Linked DNA regions of Homo sapiens: region 2 is linked to region 1. Evidence: fine-mapped expression QTL. A gene starts in region 1. The other region holds a variant in brackets. All regions are shown on one strand. Distances are between the middles of the regions.

Region 1 (2,906 bases):
GTCTTGCCCTGTCGCCCAGGCTGGAGTGCAATGGCGTGATCTCGGCTCACTGCAACCTCCATCTCCCAGGTTCAAGCAATTCTCCTGCCTCCACCTCCCGAGTAGCTGGGATTACAGGCGTGTGCCACCACGCCCGGCTAACTTTTTGTATCTTTAGTAGAGATGGGGTTTCAGCATCTTGGCCAGGCTGGTCTTGAACTCCTGACCTCGTGATCCACCTACCTCGGCCTTCCAAAGTGCTGGAATTATAGGCGTGAGCCACCAAGCCCGGCCTCCTCTTTATTTTTTATTTTGATTTATTTATTTTTGAGATGGGGGGGGTGTCTCGCTATGTTGACCAGGCTGGTCTCGAACTCCTGGCCTCAAGCAGTTCTCCCTTCTTGGCCTCCCAAAGTGCTGGGATTACAGACATTAGCCACGGCGCCTGGCCTTTTTCTTCTTCTTCTTCTTTGTTGAGACAGGGTCTCAATCTGTTGCCCAGGCTGGTCTCCAACTCCTGGGCTCAGGTGATCCTTCCGCCTCGGCCTCCCAAAGTGCTGGGATTACAGGCGTGAGCCATTAAGTGTTCCCCTTAATGACACAGCAGATGAGAGTTTTACTGAGTATCTCCTTGTGCCAGGCACCCTGTTGTTGCTGGGGAAGCGGAAGGGAGAGACAATCGTTAATCGGCTAAATTTCTGCCTTCTGAGAGCTCAGAATCAAGAAATAAATAATAGGGCAGTAAAAGGGGCTGGGATTACATACAAAAAGAAAATTAATGCCTGAACTTTTTACAATCTGCTCGATAAGCTTTAATTCTATTAACCTATTTGAGCTTCCCAACAACAGGCAAGCTCCCACAGCAGCTAGGAGGATCACTTTGTCGTCATACAAATAGAAACAGGCTCAGAGAGGAAGTCATTTGTTCTAGTTCTCACTAGGACAAATCTACTGGCTACTAAAAAAGTGTGAAGGCTGGGGACAGTTTGAGTCGTCCTGCTTGCACCTTAAGCGCCTACAAGAGTGCCCGGCTATAACAACCACAATACCAATAATAAAATTTAAAAACAGATGTTCAGTAAGGACTTGCGGCATTAGGACCCCAGGAGGGAAGTGACGTTCGAGGAGGCGGAGAAAGCCGCGAAGACGGCCTTCCCCACATCTTCCAGCACCTGCGCGCCTGAATCCGTCCCACCCAGGCCCAGACGCAGGCTTCTTCTCGGGTCTTGGTCCTGCATCCTCTCTCTCCCAGAGCCTCCGTTAGGGGGTGGGAAAGGACTTTGCCATAGGTCGCTGAGGCCACCATCTGCTCTCTTACTGGCCAAGGGCGTAAAAAGATAGTCTTCCCATTAGCTAGAGAGCAAACCCCAGAAAGCCTATTGGCTGCGCCGTCCGCGGGCCTTGGTCCGCTTTGAAGGCGGGCTGCGGCTGCGAGAGGAGGGCGGGCGGGAGGCTAGCTGTTGTCGTGGTTGCTCGGAGGCACGTGTGCAGTCCCGGAAGCGGCGAGGGGAAACTGCTCCGCGCGCGCCGCGGGAGGAGGAACCGCCCGGTCCTTTAGGGTCCGGGCCCGGCCGGGCCATGGATTCAATGCCTGAGCCCGCGTCCCGCTGTCTTCTGCTTCTTCCCTTGCTGCTGCTGCTGCTGCTGCTGCTGCCGGCCCCGGAGCTGGGCCCGAGCCAGGCCGGAGCTGAGGAGAACGACTGGGTTCGCCTGCCCAGCAAATGCGAAGGTGAGGAGGCGGGGCCCGTGGGGCGTATCCTGCCGGAGGGGCTGGCTCCAGCGGTGGTGCTTGCGGAGCAGCGTCGGGGGTTGCAAGGTTCCGAGCTCTGCAGGGTGTCTTCCTTCCTTGAACAGGCTTGCGCCGGGACGCTGCGGCGGACGAGAGATCTGGTCCCGGTACCCCTGGAGTTCACACATTGGTAGAAACAAGCAATGATAATTCAGAGTAGTAGATGCCATGATAGGGGAGGTACAGAGCTTCCTTTTGGGGGCCGGACGAGGAGCATCTGGTCTAGCCTGGAGTGGGGGAGGGGGTGGGCGAAGGCTGTGTGCAGAGGGGAGTCAAAGAGGGCTTCATACAGGAAGCACGAAGAGGCATTAGGAGTTAGCCGGATGAAGAGAAGTGGAAAGAGAGGGGCCCACTCAGGAAACTACAGAGGCAGAGGCCTGCCGGCTGAGAAGCTAAGAACGAGTTTGAGGAACTGAAAAGCTCCAGATGACTCATCTTGGGGGAAAAAAACCTAAGACTTTCCCCTTTTGCCCTCACTGCAACCCAATCTGTGTAGTTGTCTGTTGCACCCACTAACAACTCCTCGAAGGCAGGAATTTTTGTCTTAGATACGTATTCACACAGTGTCTGGTAGGCACTCAATAAATGTTTTGAGAATACAGATGATTAAATGGGAGACTGTGGGTGTGTGTGAGGAGGAGGATCTGGATCTGAGGAGCCCTTTGGGGGAACAATAGAGCCTATGGGGAACTTGAAAGAAGATTTTAGGACTTTGGAGAAAAGGTGAGTCCCAAAGACATAGGCGTTGAGGAACTACAGAGAGAGAGAGAGAGGGAGCTACCAGCGAGCCAGGACTATAAAGGACCTATTTCTTTTTCCTCAACTCCGTCCCTTAGTTTTCTCCTCAGACCTTACAGTCATGCCTGCCTTCCTAGCCCCGTAACCCCAGGGCCCCCAGAAAGTTGGCTGTGAATCTCTCATCTGAATTGAAAGCCTACATCAGGCCAGATGTTCCCTAAACACTGGAAAGTGGGTTTGGGGTAAGTTTCGGACACATAATCCTTCCATTAGAGAGATTAAAAGGATGCTTTAGAGATAAGCCGACTTCACTGGTAGGGCACCCAGTATGAGTTCAAGCCTGTGCCTTCCCCCGTACATTCTTTTCTTTTTTTCCTTTTTTTTTTTTATGAGACTGTCT
Region 2 (2,906 bases), 22 kb after region 1:
GTTATTATTCCAATCACTCTTCATTCTCCAGACTTTTTTTCTTTTTCTTTTTCTTTTTCTTTTTTTTTTTTTATTTGAGGCAGAGTCTCCCTCAGTCATCCAGGCTGGAGTACAGTGGCACAATCTCGGCTCACTGCAGCCTCTGCCTCCTGGGTTCAAGCGATTCTCCTGCCTCAGCCTCCCAAGTAGTTGGGATTACAGGCGCCTGCCACCACGCCCAGCTAATTTTTGTCTTTTCAATAGAGACAGGGTTTCACCATGTTGGCCAGGCTGGTCTCCAACTCCTGACCTCAAGTGATCTGCCCACCTCGGCCCCCAAAAGTGCTGGGATTACAGGTCTCAGCCACCGCTCCTGACCAAGCATGCATTTTTAAGGCCGGGCAAGGTGGCTCAAGCCTGTAATCCTAGCACTTTGGGAAGCGAGGCAGGCGGATCACGAGGTCAGGAGTTCGAGACCAGCCTGGCCAACATGGTGAAACGCCATCTCTACTGAAAATACAAAAAAATTAGCTGGGTGTGTTGGCGCATGCCTGTAATCCCAGCTACTTAGGAGGCTGAGGCAGGAGAATCACTTGACGGAATCTTACTCTGTCACCCAGGCTGCAGTGCAGTGGCTTGATCTCAGCTCACTGCAACCTCTGCCGCCTCGGTTCAAGTGATTCTTGTGCCACACCCTCCCAAGTAGCTGGGACTACAGCCGCGTGCCACCACGCCCGGCTAATTTTTTTGTATTTTTAGTAGAGATAGGGCTTTGCCATGTTGGCCAGGGTGGTCTGGAACTCTTGACCTCAAGTGATCTGCCCCCCTCGGCCTCCCAAAGTGCTGGGATTACAGGTATGAGCCACCATGCCCAGACAAGATAATTAACATGAGATTAAAAAAAAAAAAAATCTAAGGGTAGTGGAGTAAATTTTCCCCAGAATATTCTGTAAAATAAAGAGTGGATTTACTTATAATTCTCCAATTCAGGCTTTTTTTTTTTTTTTTTAGACAAAGTCTCACTCTGTCACCTAGGCTGGAGTGCGGTGGCACAATCTCAGCTCACTGCAACCTCTGCTTCCCAGGTTCAAGCAAATCTCCCTGCCTTAGCCTTCTGAGTAGCTAGGATTACAGGTGCCTGCTACCACGCCCAGCTAATTTTTGTATTTTTTAGTAGAGATGATGTTTCACCATGTTGGCCAGGCTGGTCTCAAACTCCTGACCTCAGGTGATCCGTCCGCCTCAGCCTCCCAAAATGCTGGGATTACAGGCATAAGCCACCATGCCCGGCCCCAATCCAGGCTTTCTAAACCTGTTGCCAAAGATGCATCTGTAGGATCAGATACAAAAAAATTAGCTGGGTGTGGTGGTGCATGCCTGTAATCCCAGCTACTTGGGAGGCTGAGGCAGGAGAATCGCCTGAACCCAGGAGGTGGAGTTTGCAGTGAGCCAAGATCGTGCCATTGCACTCCAGCCTGGGCAACAAGAGCGAAACTCCATCTCAAAAAAAAATAAAGAATAGCAAGGACACCAAGCACCCCCATTCCCGGCCCTGGACTTTGTCCATGTGTTAATGGTGGAGGGTGTCCAGGTTCTTGGCATCTTGAACGAACAATTGGACAAAATGCACAAACAAGGAAGGAATGAAGGGTTTTATTGAAAATGAGCCGGGCGCGGTGGCTCACGCCTGTAATCCCAGCACTTTGGGAGGCTGAGGCGGGCCGATCACAAGATCAGGAGATTGAGACCATCCTGGCTAACACGGTGAAACCCCATCTCTACTAAAAATACAAAAAAATTAGCCAGGCGTGGTGGTGGGCACCTGTAGTCCCAGCT[A/G]CTTGGGAGACTGAGGCAGAATGGTGTGAACCCAGGAGGTGGAGGTTGCAGTGAGCCAAGATTGCGCCACTGCACTCCAGCCTGGGCGACAGAGCGAGACTCCATCCCAAAAAAAAAAAAAAAAAAAAAGACAATGAAAGTACACTCCACAGTGTGGGAGCGAGAATGAGCATAGGGGCTCAAAGGCCCTGTTAAAAATGTTTGTGAGTTTAAATACCCTCTACTTGGGGAATGCCCTATGTAAATGAAGAAGATGAAGTAAAGTTACAATTGCAAAGTTATTAATGATGTATGCCCTAAGGAGAGGATATTTCCTGTTATAGATGAAGTGTGAATTGGCCTTATGTTACCTGCCTCCAGACCCTATTTTCCTGCCTCATCTGCCCCCTGAGATGTGATCCCCATAAATCTTTATGGGAGGCAGAGGGACAGATGGTCTTTTTTCTGTAACTGCTTCATGCTGGCTTGGGGGATGGTCCCCACCTATTAGGGATCATGGAACTCTCACCCTGCTCTGTCTAGTGGAGGCAGGGTAGCTTTTTGATGGCCAGGGGTGATGTCTTCACCTGGAACTGGCTGGAAGCTTTGTTGCATGATCAGCTGAAGCTTGATGGTCTCTAGGCAAGAGGAAATGAATTTGGTTAAAACATTTAATGGGAACTGCAGGGGGTGGATACCTATGCTGTTAGAAATGTTTGTTATATTGACCAGGCGCAGTGGCTTACGTCTGTAATCCCAGCACTTTGGGAGGCCGAGGCAGGCAGATCACGAGGTCAGGAGTTCAGGATCAGCCTGGCCAACATAGTGAAACCCTGTCTCTACTAAATACAAAAAAATTAGCCGGGCGGGGTGGTGCATGCCTGTAATCCTAGCTACTCAGGAGGCTGAGGCAGGAATGTTGCTTGAACCTGGGAGGTGGAGGTTGCAATAAGCTGAGATTGAGCCACTGCACTCCAGTCTGGGGGCGAGGGAGTGAGACTCCGTCTCAGAAAAAAAAAAAAAGAAAGGTTTGTCATAGAGATTTGCAGGAGAAAAAAAACTTGGTCTGTTTTAGAATCTATGTGTTTCCTTAAAGTCCTAGCATGAGCGAC

The links. PIP is the estimated chance that this variant, and not a neighbour inherited with it, causes the effect. A credible set is the group of variants that fine-mapping cannot tell apart.
Region 2: its variant is the best candidate, but not a certain one, in a credible set for the expression of CNPY3 in whole blood (TOPMed, PIP 0.83).

Annotation. Positions count from the first base shown.
Region 1 is chr6:42,928,014-42,930,919 of GRCh38, forward strand. CNPY3 (canopy FGF signaling regulator 3) reads left to right here and starts at 1,467. Exons shown (of 6, transcript NM_006586.5): 1 at 1,467-1,708. The coding sequence starts at 1,558. It overlaps CNPY3-GNMT (CNPY3-GNMT readthrough), which reads left to right and starts at 1,467. Exons shown (of 5, transcript NR_134892.2): 1 at 1,467-1,708. RefSeq lists enhancers at 860-1,361, 946-995, 1,006-1,055, 1,362-1,863, 1,506-1,765 and 1 more.
Region 2 is chr6:42,949,690-42,952,595 of GRCh38, forward strand. All of the region lies in intron 1 of CNPY3-GNMT (CNPY3-GNMT readthrough), which reads left to right. Among named protein-coding and RNA genes, the nearest start is that of GNMT, 9.6 kb to the right of the region's middle. The variant A/G (reference allele first, on the strand shown) is at 1,816.